Linked DNA regions of Homo sapiens. The protein of the gene in region 1 purifies or fractionates together with the protein of each later gene. This does not show direct contact. Each region holds a gene or a part of one and is shown in the gene's direction. Other genes may lie near its edges.

Region 1 (7,870 bases):
GTTCAATATTTGTTGAAAAAAATGAATGGAGAAACAACTCTGGATTAGGGCTTGAAGACCCAAGTGTAAGAATTAAAGAGGAGAGAAACACGAAGGGTGGCTTTTCAGTCAACAGGGACAGGTTTATTTTAAACAAACCTGAGAGGGGCTGCTGGCTGAGTTAGGTCAGAGCCACACTCTCTTACAGACTAAGAGTTTTTAAGGATTCAGGGTGGGAGAGCTTATCAGTGGCTTGGACTGCTTCTGTGTCTCTTTGTTGTGCTTATCTGGGAGGCAGACTGGTGTGTCTGTTTCCATACATCTTTCTGCAGCTGCAGGCATATCCCCCCAAGACTGCTTTTAGCTTCCCTATCTTAGTACACCTGAAGGGAAAGGAATGTGCTTATTAAGGCCCACAGTTTTACTGGGGCCCATTGTATGAGGGTGAAGTTTGGCAGTCACCCAAGAGACTTTCCCCCCACCTCCCTCTGTGTCCCAGCTGTCTTGTCTGTGTTTTACTGTCTGCTCTTTCTGGCTGCTTGTAGTTAGAAGAGAAGTGACTTCCTTGAAATGCATGAGGCTAGAAAGGGAGCTGGAACTTAATGTGCCAGTGTTTGTCCGAGATGACGCTACTCCTGCTCTGTCACCCAGTCCCAGCAGAAAGCAGGAAGACAGAATGGTTATCACCATTAAGTGAGTGAGACCAAAAAATCCCTTGGATGAGTAGTTTGATTTCCCCCATGAAAGGGGAGGATCTTTATACACCAGAATCTCTCAGCTCATCCACCCCAGAAGGAATGCCCCTGTGTCCTGCAGAGGAAGCAGTTTATTGTCTCCCATGGATGCTGACTCCCCAGGGTCATGTTTGAGAATGGCAACCTGCACTAAGGACTTATTTTCTTTCGTTTTTGGCTAAGTTGATTCAATACACCTGTGATACAATTCCAACCACTACTTTCTGAAGCTCAACCCAAGAAAGAGATCTAAAGCCAGAGGGAGTGGTGCCTGTGGTGTATTTTGAGTGAGGTAAGGGGTTTCTAAGAGTTTGATAAATCTGACTGCTAAGGACTTTCATGTTTAGAATCTAACCCCTTTGAAAGATACAACTCCCCCATACAGAATCAAGTGTCTGTGAAGAATACACAAATGGCTTTCAGACAGAGTGTTAAGAAGAATGCAAGTGTTAGAAGTTTAGCTCAACAAACCTTCCTCAGCTCCAGCTCTGTGGTAGTACCTGGTGGTCACAGATGAATACGACACAGGCATCCAGTGGAGAAGACGGAAGGGGAGGGATCCTACCTTTGTCCCTGACAAAGAGCTTCAGGGAGGGAAGGAGGGGAATAGACATTCCAGAAGGAACCATCCTGGGCAAAGCCTGGAGGGCAAAAGGAGGGTTTTAAGTAGTGTTCGCTCACACGTGTTTAGGATTGCAAAAGGTTTTCTTAAGAAAGTGGCATTTAAAAGGATGTCTGAAGCCTCAGGAAGCCTTCTCAGACCCCATAGAGCCTTTCACTAAACGATCATAGCATGCTGGGCTTTTCCTTCATGTCACCTATGACAGTCTGTAATCATGCATTTGTCTGGTGATGTTTTAATGGCAATCTGTTCCACCATGCCAGGAGGGCAGAGAATGTGTCACCTTGCTCACCACTATATGCCCAATGGCTGGCACATCACGTGTGCTCTATAATTGTTGACTGAACAGGAGTTGGCAGGCTCTGCATTAGAAAGAGGAAACTAAGAAAGAAACACTATGGTGCTGACACAGGAGAAGTGTGGCTAGCCCAAGGCCCAGGTGCGAGGCTGAGAGCCCTTGAATGCCAAACCAACGAGTTTAACCTGAAGGCTGGGTAGCAGGTGGACCCCTGAAATAAACTTGTACAGGCAAGTGATTCACTCAGAACAGAGGGCAGGTAAATGCATGATTCAATAAAGATGTGGGCACCCATTGTACACCAAGCCCTGTGCTAGATGCTGGGGATTCCACAGCCCATCTGATGCTCTCAGCTTAGTGCGAGAAGACAGGCAGGAAGTAAGATGGCAAAAAATAAAAAAGGTCATTTCAGACAGTTCAGGATGTGAAAGACACAAAGGGTCAGGAGGTGATATTGGAGCTAAATGTTAAAGGATGAGGAGTCAGCCACGGAAGAGCTGAAGGCAGGATATACCAAACCAAGGGAATAGCCAAGAGGCTAGAGGCTGGGCAGCAAAAGGGTGGGAAGAGACCAGGCTGGAAAGGCAGACAGGGCCAGATCACATAAGCTCTGATACAGTAAGCAGTTTGGGATCATTTTTTAAAAATCCTATGGGAAGCATAAAGGATCAGTGGGGGGCGGAGGGGGGGAAGTTAGGGACTTCTTACGGGGACAGTGGTATGCACAAGATAAATACTAAGGAAGGCCTATAAGTGAGTGCTTTCAATTCTCACTCCTCTCCGAACTAAGAGAGATCTTTGAAGCAGGAAAAGATAGGGCTCCATGTTTTGGAGGCAGATGGACCTAGCCTCCCCTTTCCAGAGAAAACTGCCTCCTGTAAATCCTCAAAGAGGAGGGTCTTGTTTATCAGCACAGCCTCATTATACCCAAAGGCTCAAAAATTATTTGCTAAATGAAGTAAATTAGAGAAAGACTCGAAATTAAAAACAAGAGTGGTGAGGGCAGAGGACTTTTGCTTATGGCACACATTAAGTAGTAATCAGCGGAAATATAATAGTACTCATTAAAGAGTGAGTCTTATGGCTTTACGACCCAGAGGAGGAGAGGTTCTAGAAGCAGACAGCGCCACCAGGGAAAAGGCTCAGAATTTTAGGCTGAGCTAGTCTCCTAACTGGATGTGTAACTACAGGTAGGCCACCTCCTTCTCTGGGCTTCAGATTGCTTGAATTAACTGACGGAGCTGGAGTATTCACCAAAGAATTTCTGGGGGACTTCCAACTCTCTCTGTAGTTTTATAACCATCCATCCCCCTTCTCTGGCGCAGAGAAGGTGCTTCATGAGTATTTGCCGTATCAATGAAGCCCAACATCTCATTTTACAACACTGGATACCAGGGCCTGGAGGGGTTAGGTGGGAGCTCAGGGCCAAGGAGCCAGTTTGTGGCAGTGTGTGGGGAGGCCCTCCGACCTGTGGCTCGGGTACTTCTGAGCTCTTGGGTAGAGTAACATCAAGGAAGCAGTAGGTGGTCGGAGCTCAACTTTGGGGTGGGAGGTAGGCAGGGTTCTCCCTGCAATCCACTGGGCACTAGATTGGATAAGGCTCTTCTGGGGTCACAATGCCCAGGCTCAAACCCCAGCTCCACGATTTGCTGGCTGAGTGGCTTTAGCCATGTCTCCTGTGTCTAACTTTACTCTTCAGTAAAATGTGACCAACAACAGAGCCTGACTTACAAAGGTCGCAGCGAGATCTGTGAGACAAGCCAGGCAAGTTTCCTTGAACAGTGCCTGACAGGTAGCAGGGGGCTCAAAAACATTCCCGTTAGTGGAACTCCTAGCACTCCAGCACAGCACACGCTACCCCGAGTGGCAACTTTTCGGGACGCGCCTTTTAAAGGCGCGTGCAAAATGTAAACACGTGGGGTATGGCAGGAGCGGTAGTGATAATTAACCACCATACATTCCCAGTTTCGAGCCACACGCAACGTGCTCGGCACTTCCCGTGCCCCAACCGGACCTAGTTTACGACTTCCTACGCACAGGCCCCTCTGAGGTCAGGGTTCGGGCTTCACTGTGACCTTGGACCAGCCCCGTTCCCCCCAGAGCTTCGGTTTTCTCATCCGCAAAACAGGAGTAGCGACCCCCCAGCCGGCCCGCCTCCGAGTGTCCCAGGGTGGGCACCTGGGCCGCGCCTCAGGTGGCCCGCGCCCGGCGTGGTCGCGGGGCGCCGGGGCCCGCGTGTCTCCCGCAGGCCCTCGTAGGCCGGTCTCCGTGGCAGCCCGCCCTCCCTACCTTCCTGCCGGCAATAGGACATGGCTGCAGCCCGTCCCTGAGACCTTGCAGAAGCGGCGGTGGCGGCAGCTGCACCTTTACGCCGTGACCTCCCTCTCCTCTGGCAGGGCGGGCTCCTCCGAAGCCCGCGCGGACCCGCCCCCTCCCAGGCCTGCCCGCCGCGCGCCTGCCTCGGCGCCCTCGCAACCGCGGCCAGGCCAACCTCAGCCGGAAACTACATTTCCCAGCAGGTCGCGCGCTCCTCGACAGCTCTCCAGGCAGTAGAAACTACATTTCCCCGAAAGCTTTGCAGTGCGCAGGCGCATCAATGAGGTACTGCAATGTCCCGGACCGTATAGTTTCCAGGACGTCTCGCCGCGCGCATGCGCAGAAACACTGGGCACAGGGGGAGGTAACTGCAGTAAGTCCCGCTTGGCCCTGGAGTCCACGCGGATTTTCGAAGCTGGGGCTGGCAAGAGGCCGCTGGACACCACGCTCCAGTCGTCAGCCCACTTCCTAGCTGAACAGCGCGAGGCGGCGGCAGCGAGCCGGGTCCCACCATGGCCGCGAATGTGAGTATCCCCGGGCCAGCCGGGCCACACCCAGGCTTCCCCGTCGCCCTGGGGCTTTTCCCCGGGGTCCTCTAGGTCCATTTCGCCGCCTGGAGCTCCTCCGTGCGGCTAGGCCCGCATCTCCCTCTGCTCGCCGTGTCTGTGCCTTCGCCAGCTCATCCCTCTGCTCATCTCGCGGCCTGTCCAGGCTTCTTTTGTCCGTGTTCCTTGGCTCGCCTCGTCCTCGGCGTTCGTGCGGAGGCGGACTCGGAGGTGTTGCTCCCGTACTGGGATCTGCTTGTACGCCTCTCCGCGGCCCCTCCTTGCATTCCCAGTTCCCTCCTGTACCTTGGGGCCCTGAAACTTGCGCATTATGAGAGCTGGACGCGACCTCAGAGAGGGCGCCAGTCCCTTGGGAGGGAGGAAGGCGATCCAGCCCAAGTGGAGCTGTCCAGCAATGGACAGACAGGGCTGTCCAGGCGGGCAGAGAGCTCTCCGCCCTAGGGAGTCTCTGTAAACCGAGTCTGTGATGCTCCAAAAAGCTTAGGCTGGGCTGGGAGCGAAGGAGTTGGGGGAGAGGGAGCATTTCTCTACTGTCGGGGCCCCTCCTCCCCCTAGCAAGGATTTGGTTGGAGGAGGCCTGGCTGAGGGCTGTTCCCTCAAGGCCTCTTCTCCCTGCAACTAGCCTTTCTCGGGAAACTATTTAAGCCCAACATTCATTCAACAAGCAGCGCCTCCTACCAGGGCGCTGGGTGTGGGAGAAGCTGGTGACTCACCTCTCCCCTCCTCTGTGAAAGTGCTTCTAGGGCCCGCTTAGGAGCCCAGCCAGCCCCAGACACACCCTCCCTCCTGCTTTGGTAGAGTGTCCTAGCAGCTCTCCCCTTGCCTGTCACACCCTATTTCCAGACACCGCCTCTGTCCCCAAGCGTCCTCTCTGCCTCCCACACCCCTTGAGAGGCCAGGGTGTGCATCACCCACAGCCCTAGTACACTTTGTCTCGGGTTAGTATCATCCACACTCCCAGGACATTTCGGGCCCACAGGAGGGTTAGAAGCCTTGAATGTTGTACCTAGAAAAGCCTCAGAGGTATTCGGAGAGACTCAGGCTCGGCCAGGCGAGAGGGCAGTCAGGAGACCAGCCTGTCTGTAGTATGTGGACTCTTTGTCTGCTCCCATCACTACCACCACCATATTTTACAGATGGGGAACTTCCCTAGCAGGGGAAGGCACTTGCCCAAGCTCTCGTGGCCGGCTTGGCATGCTGTGACACGGAAATATGCTGAAAAGGGCAGGCTTTGGAGTTAGGGAGACCTGGGGGCAATCCAGATTCTTCCACCCAGTAGCTGTGTGGCTTTCATCTCTCCAGGTTTATGTAGCCTCATGGATCAGTTACTGTGATATTTAAGGGAGACTGCTTAGCACAGTGCCTGATGTGTGGTAGGTACTTAATACTTGAAAACAAGCCTGTCCTTGCAGGGTAGCACAAATGGTCCCAGTGGATAGAGATCATCTTGGGTACATTGAGACCTGACCCCTCACCAAGGAATATACATGCATTTGAGTATTCTCTGCTGCCAAGCATTTTTTGATTCATCCAGTAGCTGAGTACACATTTACAGCAGCCACTAGGCTGGGTGAGGAAGAAGATAGCGGGATGGAGCAGGGAGGCAACAAAATTCTCAATCAGTACAGCAGCAGCAGTACCTGTGGTGAAGGTACTATTCCCCTCTCCACTTTATAAGTGAGTAAACAGAATCAGAGAGGTAGAGCAATTTACCCAGGCTTACACAGCAAGCGATTGGTGAACCTAGGCATCAAATCCAGTTCTGTCCATTTCCAGGGCCTATGTGTCAGCCTCTGTTCCCACCACTCATTGCTCATTTCTTCTAAGTCCTGAGTGCTAGGACTGGGAGGGGATGTGTCACTGGGGATGTCCGTCTGTGTGTGCGTGTGTGTGTGTGTTTATATAATGTGTGTATACATGTAATACATACTATATGTATATATAAATATGTGTGGATATATAGATCCTTTATGATCCTCCATGTTTACTGGGAATTTTGGTTCAGAATGTGGGCTGGGTTTGTCATGTCACTGCCCACCTCACCCCTCCCCTAGCCTGAGGGGCACCCTCCTGTACCTCTCTTCCTTCCCTCCAAGGCCGTCTTTGAGCCCCTTATCTTGATGCTGGCTGAGGGGAGGCCCAAGAGGAAGACACGCCTTATTTTCCTATTGCTGCCTGCAGCTGGCTCCCAACATTCAGCTCACATTGTAGCCCAAGAGATGGGGAGCACAGACTGGAATGAGTAATGGGAGAGTAGCCTCCAGTCTGCCCGGATTTGAATCCTAACTCTTCCTCTTAGAAGCTGTGTGATCTGGGAAGATGACGTAACCCTGAGCCCGATTTTCTTATCGGTGAAATGGGGTCGTTATGACATCCCGCTCTTTGGGCTTGCCTGTGGGCTGGCCTGTGATAGACCCGGTGTGTTTGCCATTGTCATCATTGTGATGGTCACCTGCCCCTATGTGGTGATTCACTCACCTAATGTTTCCAAATGGCATGGAAAGTCAAGACGACTTCTGGATTCATGGACATCTGGTCACTGGAGGCCTTGGCTGGTGGTACTCAAAGACAATCAGAATGCGACATCAGCTTTGTTCAAGCAGAGATTCTGAGTCAAATCACTCCTCTGGCCCCCAATACCAGGATGGGGCCTGTCTTAGCTGGGCCCCACTTTACATCTTTGTGACTTTTGTCAGCTCACCCCCAGCCTGGTGCCAGCCCAGTATCAGTTGTAGGGAAATCTGGTAACATTTCTACTAGCTAACACGTGTCCAGTGCTTACCACGCCCTAGGCCCTGAGCTACCCAATAACTGTGTTCTTTGGTTCTCACCACAACCCTATGCACAGAGGAAATGGAAGGCACAAAGTGGTGAAGTTGCTTGCCCAAGACCCCGTAGCTGGTATGTGGCAGAGCATAAATGCAAACCCAGTTCTTCTGGCTCCAGAATCCTGCCCTAGACGATGACACTTTTGATCAGCAGTGGATGCACCCCAAATCATGCCTCTGTTATTGACCAAAGCCTGATCCACTCACCCTTGAGTTTGAGGCCCACTGTGAACCTGCCCAGAAATGCCTACCTCCAAGCCCTTTCTTCCTCCACTGCTCCCACCCAGCCAAAGCAGACAGGCAGCTGCTCCCCCAGAACCACTTCCTACTTCCTCATCACTGCTGATACGGTTCTCCCTTTAGGGATGCTCTTCCCCTAAGATCTGCCTCTAAGATTCCACTCAAGGGAGCCTCCTTGATACCCCAGGTGGAAGGGGTCACTCCTTGAGCACCAAGTCCACCCCCATCACAGGACCCTCTGTGTGACCTTCTAGTATTGTTTATGGTTGTGACCTCACTGCCCTAAG
Region 2 (7,847 bases), on another chromosome or scaffold:
AACCGGCTCTATGCAGCTGAAGGCCAAAAATTAATGCAAGAAAGAGAGGTATTTAAAAATCATGACTAATAAATTCTCACTGTCTCTCACAATAGACCTTACTTTGTAGAATATAAGCTTCCCTTTGCATTTATCTTCCCAACATTGTGATGCTCTTCTCTCACTTAGGTGCTCCTTTCTTTTCTCTCTTCTTAAAGGCCAGAATTCTGGATCATAAACTCTACCTATAAATTTTTACATATGATTCTACCCTGTCACATTTGACAGGGCCACTTCCAGGATCTTTTGGACTTGACATTTTCTGAATGATTTATGGGGAGGAAAACAATAATGTAAAAAACTATCTTTGTAGGTTCCTGAATATCTACATCATGTTAACAAACGTCTAGAAGAAGAAGCAGACAGACTTATTACTTACTTAGATCAGACCACCCAGTAAGTACCACATGCTGAATTTAATAGTCTTAAACTGTCGTTAAATCACTTGCAGCACTTTAGCCATCCTAAACATGTTAGTAACTGTTTTCAGGTGTGATTTGAAGTGTTAACAGTTGTTTTCATAATACAAACTTCAAGTTATTCTTTTCCCTAGTTAATTAGTTTTCATCCAAGGATTCGATTATTAGGGGTGTGTGTGTGTGTGTGTGTGTGTGTGTGTGTGTGTGTTTAGAAGGTAATTTAGAAATAATACTAGAGGCTGATGTGACCTTTAAACTCTTCAGGCCAATTAAAATTCAGTGGATTCCCCTATTTCTGTGCTTTCCTAAGTATTAATATTGCCAGTCGAGGGGCCTCTGTATGTAGTACTTCTTTACCTTCCTAATAAAAGTAGCAAAACTTGGAAAAAGCCGACTACAGCAAGGTCTTGGAGATATTTATTTCGTTATGTAAACCAAATTCTAAAATATGCAGTGTTTTTTTAAAATTTTTGCCTGTCAGTTCCTTTATGTCTTTTTCTTTTAGGCATAAAGTATAGTAACTCTGAGCACCAATAAATTTATACATAGGATAGGAATCTTGAAATCAACATAAAATGAGCTATTTGATTTTTTTCCCCCCTCAGGAGAGGCTTTACATTTTCTGGAAGTCAAACGTCAATAATACTAACCTTTTTTTTTTTCCTTGTAGGAAGTCATTAATTGCTACTGTAGAAAAACAACTTCTAGGTGAACACTTAACAGCAATTCTTCAGAAAGGTAATTGGCAATTTGTAAATAAGAGATTGCTTTTTAAATGGTAGTGGCAAACTAGTAGGGAATTTTTAAAGATGTTGCCCTTTTAAAAGTTTGATAGCATGTGGCTGCATTTCTGAGGATGGACACAATCCTTATTAATCACAGTAAACTTCCTGGAGGTGCCAGTTTTCTTATCTGAAAGATACAGGAACTAGAAGAGAGGGATCCACAAATACCAATAAAAAAACAGTGGTTGATATGTGCCTGTAGTATCAGCTACTTGAGAGGCTGAGGCAGGAGGATTGCTTCAGCCCAGGAGTTTGAGGTCAGCCTGGGCAACATAGTGAGACTCTCGTCTCTTTAAATAAAATAAAAGAAAAAAAGTGGGAAATTCTTGACTTAATATGTAAGCTTTCAGTAAGGAAAGGTATTCCTTTTTACACTAAAGCGGTGAGGGTTTTTTGTTGTTCATGGCATGTCAAACCAAGCACTTCTAATCCCAAGTGAATTTAGAGTATACCCTACATTTTACTTTGAGAATGCCGCAAATAGGTAAAAGCCTTACCTTTCTCCCCAATAATATTTTCTTTTGTATAAAAATTTATATATTTAGAAATTTAATGCAGTTATACTGTTATTTCATCCTGGAAATCAAATATTTATTAGAGCCTCATTTAAATTTGACCTATTTATGCATGGCTTTTGATATATCACAGGCTATATCCAGTATTCTGAAATATAACTATGTACATAATATGGCTACTACATATATGAGGTATTTATAATGTATATTTATGTAAGCCAGTTTTTATAAGTTTGTTTTTGCCTCTAATCTATCATGCTAAATGGCACAAACCATTATGGAGTTAACCATTTTTCTTTTTCTTTTTAATTTTTTTAACTTTTTGAATTAAAATAGAGAGGGGGAGGGGGTCTTACTGTTGTGCCCAGGCTGGTCTTGACCTCCTGGCTTCAATTGATCCTCCTGCCTCAGCCTCCCAAAGTGCTGGGATTACAGGTGTGAGCCACCGTGCCTGGCCTGTTTTTATTTTTATAGCGACTAAAGTCTCTATATTTAGTTTTTACCCAGAAAGATGGTTGGGTTTAATTCAAAGGAAATCTTACATTACAACTCACATACAGACTAGTCATAGTTCAAACCAGTATCACAATAATGATTATAACTCAAATTTTATTAAAATGTCTGATAATCTTGTTCACTTTTTTGTTCACTATATTTTAATGCCAAAATGTTTTAAAATACAGGTTTAAATAACCTCCTTGATGAAAACCGAATTCAAGATTTGTCTCTTCTGTATCAGCTCTTCAGTAGAGTTCGAGGTGGAGTTCAGGTTCTTTTGCAGCAGTGGATCGAATATATCAAGGTATTAACAATTTACCTGTGATTTTTCTCTCTTATGGCTTATCTACACATCAAGAGTGCATATTGGCAAGCATTTCTTGTTTGATCCAATTTTTTTTTTTTTGAGACAGAGTTTTGCTCTCGTCACCCAGGCTGGAGTGCGGTGGCACGATCTTAGCTCGCTGCAACCTCTGCCTCCCAGGTTCAAGTGATTCTCCTGCCTCAGCCTCCCAAGTAGCTAGGATTACAGGCATGCACCACCATGCCTGGCTAATTTTGTATTTTTAGTAGAGACGGGGTTTCACCATGTTGGTCAGGCTGGCCTTGAACTCCTGAACTCAAATGATCCACCCGCCTTGGCCTCCCAAAGTGCTGGGATTACAGGCGTGAGCCACCACACCCGGACTTGATCCAGTTCTTTTAAGGGAATTTTAAATTTGTTTAAAAAGTAATGGGAATTTTGAGAACAGTCAACCTGAGAATGGTAGCTGTGTGGCATATCAGCTATAAAACCTGATTGATGGCTGACATAATTTCTGTCTCTACCACTTAAAGCAGTAAATGTAGAAAAAGACTTTGAACCCCAAATTTCTTTCCTTTCTTCAATCTTACACTAAAGCCAGATTGCCATTTTAAGGAAGTTGAAAGCTGACTTCTTTAAAAATAAGGAAAAGATCCCAGAGGCTTCTAATAATACCCTGTTATGATATCATATGCCCAGTGATCATTGCTTACTATTTTTGTGATTATAGATGAGTGGTTAACAGTGTGGATATTTAGCACTTTATTTTTTTGTCCTCATTTCACTATCAGCTTTATTTTGCCAGGTGCAGTGGTACATGCCTGTAACTCCAGCTACTTGGGAGGCTGAGGCAGGAGGATCCTTTCAGCCTAGGAGTTTCAGACTAGCCTGGGCAACATAGCAAGATTCCATCTTAAAAATAGCTTTATCTTACTTTTTAAAGATCTTTAAATATATATGCCACTTAAAATATGATTTGGGGATTGTTTTCATTGTAGACAATTCGATTACAGTAAAAAGTGGTAATTTTTTGTTTTAGGCATTTGGCAGCACTATTGTAATTAATCCTGAAAAAGATAAAACCATGGTTCAAGAATTGCTGGATTTTAAAGATAAGGTTGACCATATAATTGATATCTGCTTTCTGAAGAATGAGAAATTTATCAATGCCATGAAAGAAGCATTTGAAACGTTCATTAACAAAAGACCAAATAAACCAGCTGAACTTATAGGTATGTTTTCCAGTCCTTTTTCCAGTTGTTTAATGATGTTCTTTGAGTCATAAAATCTCAATCTGAAATTTTTACCAGGTTGTAGTATTACTAATTCCTGATTTGTTTGAGGTTGCTTAGCTGGTATATCAAGTTTGAAGAGTGTTTCTAAAAACCTGGATGTAAGTACTGAAAGCCCACATGTCAAACATAATGTGCTTTCTTTCAAAGACAGTACGTTGGACACTATTTACCTTTATTGATAATAAGCTAATCTGTTTTCCTAGCCTAATGATTTAAAAATGAGGCAGGGTGTTATTTCAAGCTACAAAAAAGGGCAGCATGAAATTACAGTTGTCAGTGAAAAAGAAAAAAGTCCAGGGCAAAAATAAACCTAATAATCTGGGCCCATTTAGCATAAGGATGTGATATACACTACAGTGCTTCTCAGGTTTTTCCACCCAAGTACCCTTAGTGTCAGAGGAGGAGGTAACCTGAGAAGGTCTAGGGTCCTCTGCCAAAAGGATGAAATTTTGTTGCAACCTATCTACTATGTATCCGTAAACATGTAGCAAATTTTACCTTCTACTCTACGATGTATCTGGTTTATTTTAATAGAAAAGTAATGTTTAAGATTGCTTACTATTCCTATAAAATGGATACTCCAGAAGATTCCTCATGTCTTTTCGTGGCTTGGATTACATGATGCCCTCACAGGGCTACATGAGACCTCCCCCACAGGATATCCGTATCCTATTTTCATAAACATCAGTATAGTGGGAAGTACATTTGATCTGGAGTCAGAACACTTGGGTTTGTGTTCAGGCCCTGATGTTATTAGCTCTATGGCACTGAACAAGTCAGTTGATCTTCCTGACTTTGGAGACTTTTAAAAATGCATATAAATTTCTGAAGTATTGAAAAACTCAGTGTATCATACTCCTCTTTGGGTATATATAGTGCCCAGTACCTCGTGTATTCCCCGGTTATTAAACAACAAACTTTTCCCCCATTTTAGCTAAGTATGTAGATTCAAAACTTCGTGCAGGCAACAAAGAAGCTACAGATGAAGAACTTGAGAAAATGTTGGATAAAATTATGATCATATTTAGATTTATCTATGGTAAGTATTTACTAATGTTTTAATATTTTTCTTTTAAAATAGCACTCAACAGAGAAGCTAGCAAGTATATTCAAACTGGAGGGAATATTTATTTGGAAATTACAGATTTAAAATTGTGTTTAATTCATTGGGGGGATACGTGAGGAATGTTACCTGATTGTCCTATGCTTTGGCTCTTCTAGTATTAAGTGCCTTGATTTTTGCTACTTGGCTTAATCTCTTAAATATTGGCACCAAAGCTACCAGTCCACAAAAGCTTTTCTGAAGAAAAGTTAATGCAATCAAGACAGTTACATGCAAAAAAGTTTTACAATAAAGACTTCGAAATGTCTGGCACAAAAATGGATCTCTACTGTTTCTTGCATTTAACAAACTTAAATAAAATGTGTAAAGTAAAATAACTTGGAATAATGGTGTGCTTTATTAAAGCACTTTAAAGCAGTTTTGTCAGTACTTTTTATTGGAATATTATAAATTTTGCATTTCTTTTTACATAGGCAAGGATGTTTTTGAGGCCTTCTATAAGAAAGATTTAGCCAAGCGCCTGTTAGTCGGAAAGAGTGCATCTGTAGATGCTGAAAAATCAATGCTGTCCAAACTTAAACATGGTAGGTTTCTCATTCTTTCTGTTCCTTTTCTTTGATTCCTGAAGGAGAATGTTAGCTTTTTACCCTTTCAATCGATTTCCTCTTTTGTCACTCATGTCTATGTATATATGATGAAAACATAAATTGAGCAAGCTCCTGAGGTTTCCAACTTATTGTACATAATATCCAGAGTTGTTTTTTTTAAGATAAAGCATTGTTCTTGGTTTTATTATTTGTATAAAAATTTCCCATTTATTTTATACCTAAATAGTAGATAAGGTTACTACAGGATTAAAGAGTTTGACTCTGAATTAATGGGGCATACACTTTGGGGTAAGGATTTCTTTTTATTCTTATGAAAGTTACAGATCATACTTCATACTAAAGTTTTGTATTTCGTGTTTCCCACTTTTAAACCTCTTTTGTTTTTACCACTTTAAAATATTATACATGTACAAACATCTTTAATAGAATGCGGAGCTGCTTTCACCAGCAAACTTGAAGGAATGTTTAAAGACATGGAACTTTCTAAAGACATCATGATTCAGTTCAAACAGGTAAAAGTGAGTTAAACTCTTAATTCCTCAAACTTAGTTGTATTTAGTTATCTGCTTGCTATGATTTGTACTAAAGAGGATAAATAGAAACGTGTTTGTTGTAATTCATGGCAACTGAGGTGATATTCACAGTAGAAAAAAAAATTGGTGAAATATAAGTATATTTGACCTACTTTAGGATTTATTTTTGACAAACACCCAGAATAACACAAAAATAAAAATAAAATGTATTGAACTGAAGTCAGTACAAGAAGAGCTATAGTGGGAAAAGGGCTTTCCTCAGCATCTTATCGTTTGGTAATTTGCATGTTCAGAGCTTGCAATGGGGAGAGAGGAGAAGTGATAATGCAGCTGTATAAAAGCCTTTGGGGACATTGGGGATAGAAAGCTAGATCCACAGTTTTGAAGATGTAGGTAGAAAGTAGTTTTGAAATGTTTAAGATCATAGGTGATAATGATGGCAAATTAGATTTTCCTCTTTTGGGTTTTAGTAGTGACTTCTTTACCCCACAGTGTTGCTAAGGTGGGAAGTGGAAGTGAAAGAATTAAGAAAAAATCAGGGTCAGTAAGATTATGGATTCTATAGTAGCTACAGAATAGGGCTTATCTGCTTTGCCCTTTTCCCCTCTTTTTCCTTCCCTACTCCAGGTCACTCCCTGCAGACAGGCAGTGGAGCAAGTGAAAAACTGGAGACTTGGGCTGGCTGGGGGGTGAGGAATGGGGGTTGCTGCAAGGTGTTTAAGCCACATAGGGGTATTCAAAGGTGGGGACTGCAGGTGGTATTGGGGAAAAGAATGGAGAAGAGATCCTATAACGGCCCAGCTGTATGTGAGAAATTATTTAAGTTGATAACGCCTGTAATGAGGTCATGTGATCCTTGTATGCCTTTGTATCAAAATGTTAACCTCTGTACTTGCCTAGTGCATTTTGTGTAGGTTTCATTTAAAGTCTTCTTAATAGTTGCCTTTTATTTTAAGGATGGTCAGTGTTTGCATGTAATTTCATAACAGGGAACTTCTTAAATAGGTTATTATGATATGAAATGTATGCAGTTTTAAGATCTCAGTGTGTGTTTTGATCTTCTTATAGTATATGCAGAATCAGAATGTTCCGGGAAATATTGAGTTAACTGTGAATATCCTGACAATGGGCTATTGGCCGACATATGTGCCTATGGAAGTTCATTTACCACCAGAGGTAAGAGTTACTGTTTAGAACTGAGTTATAGGCATAGAAATCATAGCATTTCCATTTTGCTTGTCATTTAAAAATAGATACTTAGAAAAAAATAGAGACCCAGGGTCTCGCTGTATTGCTCAGGCTGGTCTTGAACTCTTGGGCTCAAGTGATCCCCCCCGCCTCAGCCTTCCGAAGTGCTGGGATTACAGGTGTAAGTCACCAGGCTTGGCATGGATACTTTTAAAAGTGTATGTCAGTAAGCGCACCAACACCAAATACCAACTGCTTTAATGTTTTACTTTTGTACTTAGAAGTCCAGTTAAGCACATAGCTAATAATGCCAAATTTCTGGGTTCAGGGTCAATTTCCCTGGCTCTTCTTCCATCTTCCCAGGTTATACCCCTCACTCTACCTAGCTATTAAGAATTCTTGCACATATTTCACCCATAGGTGGGATTGCTAAATGATGGGTCCTTGATTAAATCTATCCTGACTCCTGGTAAACTGTCTAGTCCAGGACTGAAGCCCATAAAAGGGATTAAGGCTAGACAGATAGATATTGAGAATCCTCCATGGAGATGATTATGAAGGCCCAGGGAGTAGATTTCTCTCAAAGAGGAAGAAAAAACA
Region 3 (7,847 bases), on another chromosome or scaffold:
TTCTTCTTGATGCAGCAGCTGTGAAATGCCAAGATTTCTCCAGGTGGAATTGCTTTTACAGTTCTAGGATGAAGTGTAAAAATAAGACACAGCGCTGCCATCTCTTCACCTGGCCTGTTCTCTGTTGTTCTCTTCCAATGTGTTTCAGTGTGCAAGGGTCCAGTCCCATGAGATAATTCTAAGACTATCTCTTTTCCTCAAGAACACATGAAAGTAATTTTAAATGTAAATACTTGCAATTTAAATCACTTAAGAATACTTTGTTTCTTGAAGTTTACCTTAAATAGATTTGTGTGTTTAAAGTTTTTAGATTATGGTAAAAAAGGTACAGAAGTCTAGATTCTAGTTCATAATAATTTTCATTCCTCATGTTTCCTGAATGTCTACCCTGTGCTGGGCATGGTACCACAAGCTGCAGAGCCAGTAGAGAACAGGATAGAAAAGTTGCCTGCCCTCGTGAAACCTACTTTCTAGTGGACTTAGGGCAAATCCCTGTAAACAGAAGCAAAAGTCACAGAAGATAAGTGAATAGGTTGCTGAGGAAGGTGGAGGTTCATATGAAGGGAACATATTTCTTGTCCATGAGGCTGTGGGTTGTCTATAGATTAGCTCTATCTTGGCTAAGCCTGGCTTAGTTCCACATGCCTTTTCATTCGGGCACAGGCTGAGGGAGCAGCTCCCATCTGGGCCATTCTGTCTTCATGGCAAAGTACCAGAACACAGAGACTGAACTGAACGTCTCAAGTACCTTAAAAACTCACCTATGGACGCTGCCATGCCTGGCAATAGATTGGGAAAATCCAATCCACTAATAGGCTGCTTCTCCACCTCTGCAGATAGACATAGCAAGGAGGGGGTTCTCTTAATACTCTTTTGAAGAAGAGAAGGTGTATGATTGGGAACAAAGATACAATCTATCCGGTTATTTCTTAAAGCAGTAATTTTCTTAAAGATATTCACAACTATAGCCTGGTTAGCTTAATTAGATGGCTTCATTTATAAAATTCATTTTCTTTTTGGAAACACATGTCATTTAGCTGTTTTTACTAGGTTCTGTGTGTGTGTGTGTGTGTGTGTGTACATATGTGTGTGTTTGTGTATATATATGGAACATAGGTGGTGGTTTCTGCGAGAAACATATAAACTGGGTGAGAACAGCGTAGTTGCCTATGCACTATGCCTGCCTGATATTTGTTGAATCAACAAAAGAATGAGGAACTAGTGAGTCAGTTCCACTCTTTAGGAGGAAATTTTGTTTTATGAACATATACAACAAAATTCTCTTTAACTGTGAACTACTACATTTTAGGAAAAGTTGTGTATTACTAGACTTTAGCTATCACCCACTATTACAATACAGAAGAAAGAGCAATTTATAGCAACTCAGAGAGGTGAGGGGATGGGAGAAGCCAACCCTTATTACTGACAAAGAGAATAGTGATTAAGAAATCAAAGATATTGATCTCTTCCATTATTTATTCAATAAGTATGTATCGATTATATTATATGCCAGAAACTTCCAAGAGATGGGGAGATTGAAAGGAACCAAACCAACAGACCCTTTCCTTCATGAAGCTTATATTCTATTTCAGGAGAGTGGGCCATAAACTAAAAACCGTAAAATATGTATTATAATAAAGGTAAAAATTAAGTAGGGGCCAGGTGTGGTAGCTCACACCTGTAATCCCAGCACCTCAGGAGGCTGAGGCAGGTGGATATCTTGAGATCAGGAGTTCAAGACCAGCGTGACCAACATGGTGAAACCTTGTCTATACTAAAAATACAAAAAATTAGCCGGGCGTGATGGTGCACACCTGTAATCTCAGTTACTCGGGAGGCTGAGGCAGGAGAATTGCTTGAACCCGGGAGGTGGAGGCTGCAGTGAGCTAAGATCACGCCACTTCACTCCGGCCTGGGTGACAGAGCAAGACTCCGTCTCAAAACAAAACAAAACAAAATTAAGTAGGAAAGAGTTAAAGAGCTTCCAAATGTGGGCTGTAACTTTCAGTGGTGGAAAGCCCTCTGTGATAAGATGACATTGGTGTAAAGACTTGAGGGAGGTGTGGAGTGAACTGTTTAAATATCTCCACATAGAGCATTCCAGGCAAAGGGAATGGGAAATGGGAAGGCCTTGGGGCATGGGATATTGGGGACCGCAAGGGGAGAGCAGGTGAGAGCAAAAGTGTAGATAAGCTCAGAGAAGTAGCAAGGCCCATATCATCTAGGGCTTTGGCTTGTATTCCAAATAAGATAGAAAACTTTTGGAAATTCTCTGCAGAATGGTGTGTAATGTGATTTTGACTCTCAACAGGATCACTCTTGCTGTCACTTTGGGAATAGACTCAGGAGCAAGAGCAAAAGCAGAGAGACCTTAATCTAGGGATGAGATGATACAGATTTGTACCACGGTATGGTTTCTCTAAAAAAATACAAACCATGTTCCAAGTCAAAAAATGACATGGTATGATTTAGACGGGCTTCCCCTCAACTTAATCTGAATAATGATTTTCAATGTATTATATACTATTCATAAGAATTTGGAATGTAGTTCATAAGTGAACTACGAGTGATATGTTTAATGGCATATTGCTCTGAACATAACTTTAAATCAAACTTTGCAGTCACACTCTTCCTAAATAGAATATTGAATGCTAGCACAGAGTAATGGAATAAGTATTGACTTGGGGGCACACAGCTCTGTTCTTAAATATTTTTGGTGGCATAAATTGGGTCAAGCTGCTTAACCTTGTTGAAACTTGGTTTACCGTCTAGAAAAATGTCTGCTTTACACAGTTATTATGAGGAAAGTGCCAGTACATTTTGATTCATAGAAGAAACTCAATAAAAATACATTAGTTCCCTTCCCTGCAGATTTGGAAGATGTGGAGCAGTAGAGGAAATATCAGTGACGCAGTTTCAGTGTGGTATAAAATGTTTGCTTTATTATGAATGCGTGTTTGATAGCTGCTCCCACCAGCTCTCTTCTGACATTTTTGAAACATATGACTCAACAGGGGAAATTAATAGGATGATAGAACATTGAAATTTGAATCCTGACATAGGAGCCCTCCAGCTGTGTTCCTATAGGTGGTGGCAAACCCATTGCAGATCTACTGAGGCTCTTTCTGGAACCACATAGCCATTGGCCATATATATGCAAGTCTAACCAATACAAAAGCTTGGATATATTTTTTAGACCCTGCAGCAGTCTGAAAAATGTGAGAACTTTGAAAATCATCTTAATTTCATAGATGGGAGTTGAACTCACCCAGGATTAGATCATGACTAAGTGTTACTGAGATTCTGCCAAACTGTGTAGGGTAAAATGGAAATGAGGTGAAAATATGAGAGCAGCTATGGTATATTGCTCTTTTTGAAAATTTCCATCAGAATTATGTAATAAACTAGAGTTGGTAGGGTAGGTGTCTTAGACCTTTTCTATTACTTATAACAGAATACCTGAAACTGGGTTATTTATACAGAAAAGGAACTTATTTCTTAACAGTTATGGAGGCTAAGTCCCATGTCAAGGGGCTGCATCTGGTGAGGGCCTTCTTGCTGGTGGGGACTCTGCAGTGTCCCAGGAAGGCTCAGAGTATCACATGGCGAGGGGGCTGAGTGTGCTAGCTCAGGTCTCCCCTCCTCTTTTTTAAAGCCACCAGGTCCCCTCCCAACATAACCCACTAATCCATGAATGGATTAATCCATTCATGAGGGCAGAGCCCTTATAATCCAGTAACTCTTTAAAAGCCTCATCTCTCAGTATTGCCACAGTAGGGTCCAAGTTTATCTCAATTGCTTACCCTTTTTTTCTTTTTCTTTGTGAAACTGCCTGATTTCAGAAGATGTTTAGCTCAGTAAATATACCAGAGATTTGTTGTTTTGTAAAACAGTCTTTATTCTTTTCTTCCAAATGTGAGATATTCTAAGTGAAATGAAGACTTTTGTCCTTTATGCTTGCTGAAATTTGAATGGCTTGTTTTATAGCAGTCTTTTTTCCCTTTTTCAGGAACTCTTTCCAGTTAACAGACAGAGTGTGGATCATTTTGCTAAATACTTCACTGACGCAGGTCTTAAGGAGCTTTCCGACTTCCTCCGAGTCCAGCAGTCCCTGGGCACCAGGAAGGAACTGCAGAAGGAGCTCCAGGAGCGTCTTTCTCAGGAATGCCCGATCAAGGAGGTGGGAGACCACGGGCAGACATCACCTCAATACACATGAATGAGAGGAATTACATGGGCTGTGTAGCAAAGGCTTTCCTTAACAAGTCTGTCCTATGCTTATTGCTGTAAACTTTGTCCACTTATTCCTACCATTTAAATTAACTCAGCTTCAAAGTATTGATTTAGAATCCTCCATTTTTGTTAACACTCTAGGATGGTCCAGAAATTAATAGTGATTTCCACACAACTGACTTATTTTACCAGGCTGCTATGATTTTCAAAATATTTCATCTGTCAAAGAGATTTGACCATCCACTATCAGTATAGCCCATTATATGGTAGTTTTAAAATTTTGTTGCAGGTTATCTAACCTGATTAAGCATTTGTCTAGTGTTTGGAATTAACACTGGATTTTTTGTTCATCACTCTGTATGAATATGTAACAGGCTTTTTATTTGAAAAAAGTTTGAATTCCTGTCATGGGAAAAGACTAGTTGGATCAGTGACTTGTTTAATCCCACTCACACTTGGAAGAGCTGTGTTTCCCTATAATGTAAAAGCTATATTTTTTATAATACGCATATACATAGTTTATATATACATGCTATAGTTCACAAAGCAATGACTATATCTTTTTTTTATTTTTAGTGTATCTGGAGAGAGCTTTCTATTTGAAGTTTTAAAATCTTTCATGCAACAATTTAAAAATTAATATAAAGCGTCCTTTCTTTTTTTCCACGTGCTCTAAAATGCCTGACCCACACCTCCTTCCATGCTCCAAGCCCTGCTTGGCAGCTCACATGGTTGAAGCCTGGAGAATGTAGGACTGATACTATCCAGCAGGTGGAGGTGTTGGAATGACAAATATTCTTAAGTCTCATGGTATTAAGGATAGCAGTATATTTAATCATATTTCTCCAAGCAAGAATTTGTACATTATTTTCCATGGGGAAAAGAAGCAAACATAAAAAGCCTTGTGATGCTTGTAGATGCCAGGATGTCACACTTTTATGTGGCTTCCTCCAGCCAGCACAGGGACTGGGACTGCCCGGCTCCTTCTGCTTTTGAAGGCTGCTCAAGTCACTGCTGGCATTTCTACACTCCAGGCCAGAAGTCAAGAAAGCAATGTGTTTCCAGCAAAAAAGAAAAGGGAGGGAAAAAAAAGGTGTTACTACTACTCACAAAGTAGTATGCTGGAGATATACGATGACTTTCAATCACTTCTGAGGCCCAAACCTCTATTTATTATTTTATTTTAAAAGGAAAAAGCCTTTCAAATAAATTTTAGGCAAGCCTATATTCCATACTCTCAGGGTTGAGTATAAATTTGCATATTTATACATAATTCAAAGGAGAAAATAAGTTGCTGAATACTGCTGAATTGATGTATATGAAATTTAAAAATTGCCTTTGCACTTACAATTTATTTACAAATTAACTTTTCACTGAGATGGGGCATAAGGATCATCAAAAGTAATCATTGAAGAATAAATTGTGGAGAATGGACCTGTACAAACCCAAGATGGTATCCATCAAGAGGTTTTAAAGTTTAGGGATGGGATAAAAGTTCACAACGCTGTTGCCTTCTTTAAATCTCCAAAAAGTCAAACTGGCTCAAGTATCCCTACTCTACTAGACTCAAAGGGGTTTCTCTATGAGGAAACAAAAATCCTCTCTTACTCCACATTATCCAGCAGCTCCTGGCCAGAGCTAAGCCTATTAATTTTGGGACTAAAAATAAATTTGCTTTGAGAACAAATCATTATAGTTTTTCTCCCTCTTCCAGTCTGAGAATGCAGACAAGGAAAGGAGAAGCTAAGCAGATTGTTTCTTAGCTGCCCCAAAACCTTGATTGACTGGGCAGCTAGCGGGGAGATGGGAGCCCTCCATCTGCCTGTTACTTTCTGACCCCATTTCCATGTAATGTAGGTGGTGCTTTATGTCAAAGAAGAAATGAAGAGGAATGATCTTCCAGAAACAGCAGTGATTGGTCTTCTGTGGACATGTATAATGAACGCTGTTGAGTGGAACAAGAAGGAAGAACTTGTTGCAGAGCAGGCTCTGAAGCACCTGAAGGTAACAGCCCTTAGCAAGGAACTGACCCAGCCAAGGGCAAACTGCAGCTTTTTTTGTTTGTTTGTTTGTTTGTTTGAGAGTGCAGTGGCACGATCTGCGCTCACTGCAACTTTGAACTCCTGGGCTCAAGCCACCCTCCCTCCTCAGCCTCCCAGGTAGCTAGGACTACAGGCGCGTGCCACCACGTCTGGCTAATTTCTTCATTTTTTGGTAGAGATGTAGTCTCGCTGTGTTGCCCAGGCTGGTCTTGAACTCCTGCATTCAAGCTATCCTCCTGCCTTGGCCTCCCAAAGTGTTGGATTGCAGGCATGAGCCACCACGCCGGGCCCAAATTTGTCTTAATTGAGAGTATGACAAATGGGTTCCAACTACAATTACCCTAGACTCAGACTAAACATATACTTCCTAATTTTTTTCCAAGTTTGCACCCAGCGTTCATGAGAACATAGCAGTGAGTAAACTGTCCATGTTACTTTGATCAGGGAAGGCCCTTTGGAAGAGATAAGTATTGAATTGAGTAAGTCTCAGAAAAACAATGGCTATGCCTCAGTGTCAGAAAGTCAAGGATATTTCTAAATGAATGCTTTTTATCCCAGCAGCTCATCAAGATTCCTTCCCTGTACCCACTAAGAGACCAAATATGAGAATCTGCCTATATTAAAGATAATTGCTGGCCTGCTATGTCTAAGGGATATTTCGAAAATGAGGTCATATCCTCATAGAATATCCATTGTATTATTGGACTGTGGCTCTGCCATTGAAAAAATGTGAATCTTCTTCCCAGTTCCCTCACAGGTCGACTATACTGCTTTGTTCCTACTGTTCTGTTCCCCTCACCCCATTGGGCACAATATGATGATAAAAGGTGTCAATCCTGAAAGTCAGTCTTTTCTAAGCAACCCTCCAGGTTACTGTTATAGTTCCAGCAGTGTCGGCTCTGTACCTCCCACGCAAGTGACGGCTTTTACTCTCCACTTCTGTTCTAGCAATATGCTCCCCTGCTGGCCGTGTTCAGCTCCCAAGGCCAGTCAGAGCTGATCCTCCTCCAGAAGGTTCAGGAATACTGCTACGACAACATCCATTTCATGAAAGCCTTTCAGAAGATTGTGGTTCTCTTTTATAAAGGTATCCATCCACGTGCCACTGCTGTGCTTCTGTGTTTTGCTGAAGCTCTTTGAGAGGCAGAGCAGGCAATGAGGCAGAGGAGGTCATGGGGCTCTGTTTAGAGAGGGACAGCAAGATGCTAATTTGTGAAAGTTTTATTGAGGCAACCATACCATGTAGAGAGAGGAGGCATACACGCCATATATGCGTTGCCTTGGAAACCCTGCTTAGGCCCCTGGGCACTTCTCATTGGTAGATGAACTGGTAATTGTTTCTTGGGGTTGGTGGAAAAAAAATGTAATTATATAAAATTGAGCCTGTTTTTGAATTGTAAGGATTAGCTCTAATAACAATGATTATCAAAATAGTATATATATTATGTTCAGACTCTTTTAGGTACCATAAATCTGACTTTAAAATTACTGAAGTAATTAGCCTTTTTACTTTGTATTTTAGTTACTTGGCCCAGCCATTCTCCTGTTTTCCAAGGGAATGGCTATTTTTAG
Region 4 (7,948 bases), on another chromosome or scaffold:
ATCTATGAATCTCATATCAAATCTGTGTGTGTGAGGAGCAATAAGGAGCTGAGAAAAAACCAGCAAGATGGAGGAGGTTGCATCGCTATTCAAGGGAGCTGTGGAGAGGCGTCTCCAGCGATGGAGGTGGTATATGTGAAGAATCCACAACACACATACACAGAATCAGCTTCAAACACCTGCTGGGCCCAAAGAACATGAAACCATCTTATGAAAACACCAGTCAAGTAAGAATTTTCCTTTCCCTCCCCTCTCACTTCCAATCCTTCCCCCCTAATCGGGGAGAGGTCAGAAAGAGCAGCTGTCTATCTGTGGGAGGAGGAAGCAGGGAAGGAAACAAAGTCATCACCCCCCTCCAGACTGAAGTACCCATCTATAGTGGGCTTAACTAGGAAAGGGGAGAGAAATTTTCATTTTAAATGAATTGGAAGCTTCAAATCATGACTTGGACCTGGACTTTCTAGTTACCATTTTGAGATAAACTAAATGCCATCAAACCTGTGGCTTTAAATTACTACCTGTATAACACTGTTTGTTTTGTTTTGTTTTGTTATTTGAGACAGAGTCTTGCTCTGTTGCCCAGGTTGGAGTGCAGTGGCATGATCACCACTCACTGCAGTCTCAACTTCTTGGGCTCAAGCTACCCTCCCACCTCAACCTCCTGAGTAGCTGGGACTACAGGTGCTCCCCACCACACCTGGCTAATTTTAAAAAGAACATTTGTAGAGACAGGGTCTTACTATGTTGCCCAGGTTGGTCTTGAACTCCTGGGCTCAAGTGATCCTCCCACCTTAGCCTCCCAAAATGCTGAGATTACAGGCATGAGAACACCGTACCTGGCCTGTACAGTACTTTCAATAACCTTTGAGTAACTAGGGAAGGCATGAATTGACTTGTGTTCAGGATCAAAGTGAGAGATATTGGGACAAAAAAAAAGAAAGGAAAAAAAACCTGCTTTCTGGTTATAAAATGTAATTCTGTTTGATTAGCACACTGATGACATTGGAGAGTGTGTAATAACTAAGGATTATGATTAATCCAATTCTGTGCACCTGAGATCCAAAGAGAAAAGAAAAAAAACAAAACTCATGGAGCCTAGCTGTGAGTATCAGACTCAAATAAAAGTTGAGAAGACATTGGGAGGTTATCTCAGTAATGCCAACAACTTACAAATGAATTTTAGACTGGCCTCTTTCTTTTTTTTTTTTTTTTTTGAGACAGGATCTCACTCTGTCACCCAGGCTGGAGTGCACCGGTGCGATTTCAGCTCACTGCAACATCCACCTCCCAGGCTCAAGCCATCTTCCCAGCTGGGAATACAGGTGTGCGCAACCATGCCTGGCTAATTTTCATATTTTTTGTAGAGACCAGGTTTCTCCATGTTTTCCAGGCTGGTCTTGAACTCCTGACCTCAAGTGATCAGCCCACCTCAGCCTCCCAAAGTGCTAGGATTATAGGCATGAGCCATCGCGCCCAGTCCTGGCCTCTTCTTTTTAAAACTCATTTTTATTTTATTAAGAATAAAACAAATAATATACCATGAGTATATGTCAAAATTTAACATAAATTATATATCATAAACCAGCAAGTATTGAATTGTGGACTCACATCAATATGATGGTTGGTAAACATAACCTATATGTGTGTATATGATAAAAGAAATGAGTTGGGAGGCCGAGGCGGTGGATCACGAGGTCAGGAGATCGAGACCATCCTGGCCAGCATGGTGAAACCCCGTCTCTACTAAAAATACAAAGAATATTAGCCAGGCGTGGTGGTGGGCACTTGTAGTCCCAGCTACTCGGGAGGCTGAGGCAGGAGAATGGTGTGAACCCGGGAGGCGGAGCTTGCGGTGAGCCGAGATCGTGCCACTGCACTCCAGCCTGGGCGACAGAGCGAGACTCCATCTCAAAAGATAAATAAATACATTAATTAATTAAAATAAAATAAATAAAAGAAATGAGCTGGGTATGGTTGCTCATGCCTGTAATCTTAACACTTTTGGAGGCTGAGGTGGGAGGATCACTTGAGATCAGGAGTTGGAGACCAGCCTGAGCAACACAGGGAGACCTTCTGTCTCCAAAAAGGTAACTCTCTGCAAGCCTGACTGCTGAAACTGCCTCTTGTAAACGGAGACCAGTTTTATCTAACAACTGCTGAAACAACCTACTGTGACTCTAAGACTAATTTTACCTGCTGCCATCTCTCACCAATCCTAGCTTGCAAGCTCCCCCAAACCTTACTAAAACCAATAAAATTTCTTTCAAAACAACGTGTAACATTTCTCCTTTTTATAAAAGCCCCAACCTTCTCTTTGTACTTCAGATATATTGAAGACGCCCACCTGTCTCATCTGTGTGTATGCCCTGAATTGTAATTCTTACTTTCTAAATCAATTGCTTTAAATTTAGAGATTCATCTCTATGTTTTGTTTGACTTTGACGTAAGTATCACAGTAATTCTAGGCAAACATTGGACACCTTCATTATGTTTTCTAATATAGTTATGACTGAGTATTTAAAATATTCATGTGGACATTTTATTTTAAATAATTTCGGCCGGGCGCGGTGGCCCGCGCCTGTAATCCCAGCACTTTGGTAGGCCGAGGCGGGCGGATCACGAGGTCAGGAGATCGAGACCATCCTGGCTAACACGGTGAAACCCCGTCCCTACTAAAAATACAAAAAAAAAATTAGCCGGGCGAGGTGGCGGGAGCCTGTAGTCCCAGCTACTCTGAAGGCTGAGGCAGGAGAATGACGGGAACCCCAAGGGGCGGAGCCTGCAGTGAGCCGAGATCGCGCCACTGCACTCCAGCCTGGGCGACAGCGAGACTCCGTCTCAAAATAAATAAAATAAATAAATAAATAAATAATTTCATGTCTCCATTCCTGTTTGGTCATTATATTGATATTTTTGAAATTTCATGTGGAAGTAGCTTATATCATCTATAAATTTAATTCCATTAAATCAAAGTGGGTACTTGTAAATCAATTCCATCATAGGTAATTTTTTTAGTTTAATGTTTACGATTCTTATGGAGAAAGAAGTGTTTTTCATTTACCTTTGCATGGGTGCTTAAAATACACATTTCTATTTCAAGATGACACTGAAAAATTCTTCTAATATAACAGCAGCAAAAATGTAATTCTGCAATTACAAAAGTGCTAAACTGAAATCCATAATTAAGGTTTTCTCATGTTTACAATTGTGGTTCTTTAATCAATACTAATACTATGCAGGTCTGTTGTAAGGTTTCTAGATTCGGTTTAAACACACGCACACAATACTGTCAGTTGTAGGAGGCTTTACAAGTTATATTTCATGCACTTTTTTTTAAAGAGTTCTAAAAGAGCCAACCAGTCCACAAGACAGACAGAAAAAAAGTTAAATTAACTGGAGTAAATTGGACTCTTAACATTCGAAACATGCAAGATTCTGCAGCAAACTGGGAGTACTTCAGGATTGGCCTGCTATCTTCCTTAGTATTAATTTCATCTTAACAGTTTAAGAAGTTGGACATTTTAACACCATCAAGCGCATTTAGGTGACGTGTTTCTTGTGTGTTAACTTGGCTCCCCGGAATGATCTAGTTAGTGAACTAGTCACTAATAATTTGGTCACCAGGCAAATCAAGCCTACACGAAAGGAAGCGACTATTCAAAATACCGTAGTATCATCTGAACCTACCCAAATAATTTATGTTCAACATAAACATGTAACTTCAATAATGAGATGACTCATTAATGAGTCAAGCTCCTCCAACAAGACAAAGACAACATCTCTTCTTCTAAGGTTTAAGTTTTGCATAGAAATCCGGATACATGGAATAGCCCATACCAACAGTCATTGCTCCTACAACAAAGCTGGACTGCCACACGCATGTGGATCAGGTGACGTGATATTTTAGTATTTCCCCTGCTTTTCAATTTGTATAATCCGTATGCAGCAACTACTGCAAAACCTGCCATTCCAATGGGGACAAATGGTGCCTCTTTAGTTTTTCGAATCACTTTGGATCCCTGGAATCCCTCACAAGCCATCCAGCTTCCCCTACGGATATTTTTAGGAATGGCAACAGTGGCCAGAGATCAGAGGATTATATTATTAGGGTTATACAACTTTTATATAAAAAAAGTGGCTTCTGACCAGGCGCGGTGGCTCACGTTTGTAATCCCAACACTTTGGGAGGCCGAGGCAGAAGGATTGCTTGAGCCAGAAGTTCGAGACCAGCCTGGGCAACATAGATCAGAAGGCGAATAGAATAAGTCCGCTAGCTTTGAGATTCACATCTGTTCCTGAGGCTTCCTCACTGCTCCCCACCCTTCCTTCTTCAATCAGTCTAAGAGCTCCTGGAGAAATGGAACACCTGATTCAGTGAGGGTGACAAATAATTATGAGTATGTTCGTGCCAGGGTCCTCGATAGGATGGGGTGGGGGAGGTCAAGCCGCCTTGGCAGCTGGCCAGGCTCCGAACAGCAGATGGCGCTGTAGGGGGAGTCCCACCGGGTACGCCGGGCGCTCTGGCACTAGGGCGCCGGTCGTCTCCTCCGCAGCTTCCGGCACGGCCTTCAAGCGCGGGACGCGACAAAGTCATGGACCGCAACCCCTCGCCGCCGCCGCCGGGTCGCGACAAGGAGGAGGAGGAGGAGGTGGCCGGTGGAGACTGCATAGGGAGCACGGTCTACAGCAAACACTGGCTCTTCGGCGTCCTCAGCGGACTCATCCAGGTGTGGAAACTCGCGCCACGCGTGGGGTGTCCCTACATCCCCCAGGCACCGGGGCTCCGCCTCTGGCGAATCCTCCTGCCCCGGGAGCCGCCATCCCCACAAAGACCCCTCCCCAGGCGTGCGCTGCGGGACCTTGCTCCTTGCGTTTCGCCGGCCGCTGCGGACCCCAAAACTATCTGGGCCCCCTCGGGGTCTCTCGACACAAAGGGAAGTATAATGGTAGGGATGCTGAAATACTTGCCGTTCTATTTTGCTTTCCCAAGTTCTCCAAAAATACATGATCGTGTAACTGCATTCCTCGGGTTTTGCTCCCCATCCCCACTGTCATTTCTGAAGCCCAGGTCCTTAATTTATGTATTTCATGGACTATCGTTGTAATAGAATAAATGGTGACTTTAGGGTTATACAACTTTTATATTAAAAACGTGGCTTCTGACCAGGCGCGGTGGCTCACCTCTGTAATCCCAACACTTTGGGAGGCCGAGGCGGAAGGATCGCTTGAGCCAGGAGTTTGAGACCAGCCTGGGCAACATAGACCTGGTTTCTACAAACTTAAAAAAAAAAAAAAAAAAAAGCCGGTCGTGACGGTGCACGCCTGTAGTCCCAGCGACTCAGGAGGCTGAGGCTGGAGGATCGCTTGAGCCTGAAGTTGGAGGCTGCAGTGAGCTATGATCCAGCTTCTGCACTCCAGGCTGGGGGACGGAGTAAGACCCTGTCTCAAAAAAACAAAAAACGCAGCTTCCTTACCCACTAGCTGCAGGTCACCTAACGGCTCAGAACCTCTATTTGTCCCTTAATTTCTATAAAATGGGATTATAATATTTATATTATATATAAGGTTATTGTGTAGGTTAAGTGAGATTATAATGGCAACAGAGTGCTTAGCATGGTGTTTGGCTTATAGGAGGCTGTCAGTAAATGTGTTTTCTTCCCCCCATGTTTCCCTAATTGGTTCCTCTCCTCCTATTGTCTATCCTCTCCAGTCAATTTTCTACACAGCTGCCAGAATAATCTTCTTTAAAGACAGGGCTATTCATGATACTGCTCTTAGTTCTTTTTGCCTGGGAGAAAAATGCATGTTTCTTGAAGTTTGGAATCCAGGGCTGTTTGTACATTTTCCAGCCTCATCTTCTCATGATACACTGTGTTCCATCAACTCTGAACTGTTCACCATCCCCAAACATGCTAGGCCCTTTCTTAACTCTGAACTCTTGTGCTTTCCTCTGAATACTCACTTCTCTCCTTCTTCACATGACAAACTACTATTCTTCCTTTAAAATTTAGCTTAAATATCAGCACCTAAGGGAAGGTTCCCCATCTTCTCCTAGGAATAGGTCATTGGTCCATCGTTTTTGCTACCAGAACTCTTTGTCCACAATTCAGTTGAATCACTTTGCCTTTTCTAATATGACTATCCCTTTACATGTCTTTCCCCACTAGATCCTAAAAGTTAAAAAAAAAAAAAAGCTTAAATGTAAGGGATTATATCTTACTTGTCTTTGTATATCTACCCCAGTGCCTAGCAACAGTATTTACTTTGTGAATGTTGAAAGAGTAGATCTACCCAAGGTACTACATTTTTAAAAGAAGATTTTTGCAAGAGAAGATACTTTGCTGATAGCCTCTTTGTGACTTCTAAACGATTATGGGTTAATATTAAAGTAAGTGCTCACTTAACATCAGTAGGTTCTTGGAAATTGTGACTGTAAGCAAAATTACTGATAATGAAACCAATTTTACCATAGCTAATTGATATAAACAAGAGTTAAGTCCCTGTGGCATATTTCTGGACACAAGAACATCACCAAACTTCTAAATGAGGACCTAAAACACTTCTAATATTAAACATTGAGATAAATGTGAGCTATAATACGTTTAGGAAAGGTTAATAAAAACAAGATAATTATTCACCCAGTTTTGGTGAGTTAGTGAGTGATGGTGGTTGTAGTGATTATCACTACAACCTTTATTCTTTGATTGTGTTAAATCAAGGAATAAATGTTTACAAAGCAAAAATGATCACCTCTTACTACTGTACAGTCCAAAAACAATAACAAATAAGGCAGGCTTACTGAGCACTTTCCTACCACATAATTATTGTCACGCATCTCTATGGTTATTGTCTTCTTTACAGATTTTTGTTTTATAATAATTTGTATTCATCCATTTCCCAACCCACTTGCTCTGGTTCAGGGTTGAGGGTGGCTGGAGCCTGTACCAGCAGTTCAAGGTGCAAGGCAGAAACCAGCCCTGGACAGGATGCCATCCCATCACAGGTACACACACACCCACACTCACTCAGATTGGGACCATTTAGATACCCGTTGTGCTAATGTGCAAATTTGGGGGATGTAGGAGGAAACTAAAGTACCTGGAACAGACTCATGCACTCTTGGGGAGAACATGCAAACTCCACACAGACAGTGGCCCTGGCCAGGAATCAAATTTTTTTCTCATCAGCGTTACGAGGAAATGTTATTTGATCACCTGCTGTATTTGGGTACCTGGTTAGTATTGTAGACAACTTTTATTCATGTTTTCTTTCTTTGTGTTTCTGAAGATTGTTAGCCCTGAAAACACCAAATCTAGCTCAGATGATGAGGAGCAGCTGACGGAGCTTGATGAAGAAATGGAGAATGAAATTTGCAGAGTATGGGATATGTCAATGGATGAGGTATGAGGCTGGAAACAAAACTCTGAAGACTGTTGGGTGAGGAGATGGTGAATGAATGTTTTAAAAACGGTTCAGTCCTTCACTCTGGGGAAAGGCTTTATCTCCTGTCTGTAATCACACCCATATATGATATAGGGAATGAGATCCCAGGGGCTATAAATGCTAAACTTCTGTCTTTGAGGCTGGAGGATTTGAGCTCTCAACAGATTCGGACTAAATACGTAGCTCTTATGAATGTATTCCTATACACATGTAGGCCGGGAAAGTTCTGATACTTACCTACCTAAAGAGAGCTCTGGCCATATATTTGACAGCAGGTTAGGAGTTAGAAGACCACTGATATACCATGATAATATTAGAAGGAAAGGACAATAAATAATTATATGTCTGTAATTGCAGTATTAATCATAGTGTTTTAATATCTGTATTTTATTCTATAGCTCAAAAGCATTTTCATATATAGTATTCTATTTGATCTTCACAATAACCCTGTGATGTAGGTAGTACCCTTATTTTACAGTTAAGAAAATAGAGGCCAAAAGACATT

Evidence for each region.
Region 2: the proteins of TMEM43 (region 1) and CUL4B purify together in Homo sapiens (affinity purification with mass spectrometry; 5 studies listed by BioGRID and IntAct, with this or other methods). This does not show direct contact.
Region 3: the proteins of TMEM43 (region 1) and BZW2 purify together in Homo sapiens (affinity purification with mass spectrometry; 4 studies listed by BioGRID and IntAct, with this or other methods). This does not show direct contact.
Region 4: the proteins of TMEM43 (region 1) and SAAL1 purify together in Homo sapiens (affinity purification with mass spectrometry; 3 studies listed by BioGRID and IntAct, with this or other methods). This does not show direct contact.

Annotation. Positions count from the first base shown.
Region 1 is NC_000003.12:14,120,733-14,128,602, forward strand, and holds the start of TMEM43 (transmembrane protein 43), read left to right. Parts: upstream 1-4,319; 5' UTR 4,320-4,461; coding exon 4,462-4,473; intron 4,474-7,870. Other genes in the region: CHCHD4 (mitochondrial intermembrane space import and assembly protein 40), read right to left, coding at 1,185-1,245. UniProt on the Homo sapiens protein: May have an important role in maintaining nuclear envelope structure by organizing protein complexes at the inner nuclear membrane. Required for retaining emerin at the inner nuclear membrane.
Region 2 is NC_000023.11:120,536,315-120,544,161, reverse strand, and holds part of CUL4B (cullin-4B), read left to right. Parts: coding exon 1-48; intron 49-352; coding exon 353-435; intron 436-1,128; coding exon 1,129-1,196; intron 1,197-2,441; coding exon 2,442-2,560; intron 2,561-3,599; coding exon 3,600-3,792; intron 3,793-4,789; coding exon 4,790-4,894; intron 4,895-5,391; coding exon 5,392-5,502; intron 5,503-5,952; coding exon 5,953-6,038; intron 6,039-7,127; coding exon 7,128-7,235; intron 7,236-7,847.
Region 3 is NC_000007.14:16,690,825-16,698,671, forward strand, and holds part of BZW2 (eIF5-mimic protein 1), read left to right. Parts: intron 1-4,009; coding exon 4,010-4,180; intron 4,181-6,090; coding exon 6,091-6,237; intron 6,238-7,223; coding exon 7,224-7,362; intron 7,363-7,847. UniProt on the Homo sapiens protein: Translation initiation regulator which represses non-AUG initiated translation and repeat-associated non-AUG (RAN) initiated translation by acting as a competitive inhibitor of eukaryotic translation initiation factor 5 (EIF5) function.
Region 4 is NC_000011.10:18,102,686-18,110,633, reverse strand, and holds the start of SAAL1 (protein SAAL1), read left to right. Parts: upstream 1-4,551; 5' UTR 4,552-4,592; coding exon 4,593-4,727; intron 4,728-7,287; coding exon 7,288-7,401; intron 7,402-7,948. UniProt on the Homo sapiens protein: Plays a role in promoting the proliferation of synovial fibroblasts in response to pro-inflammatory stimuli.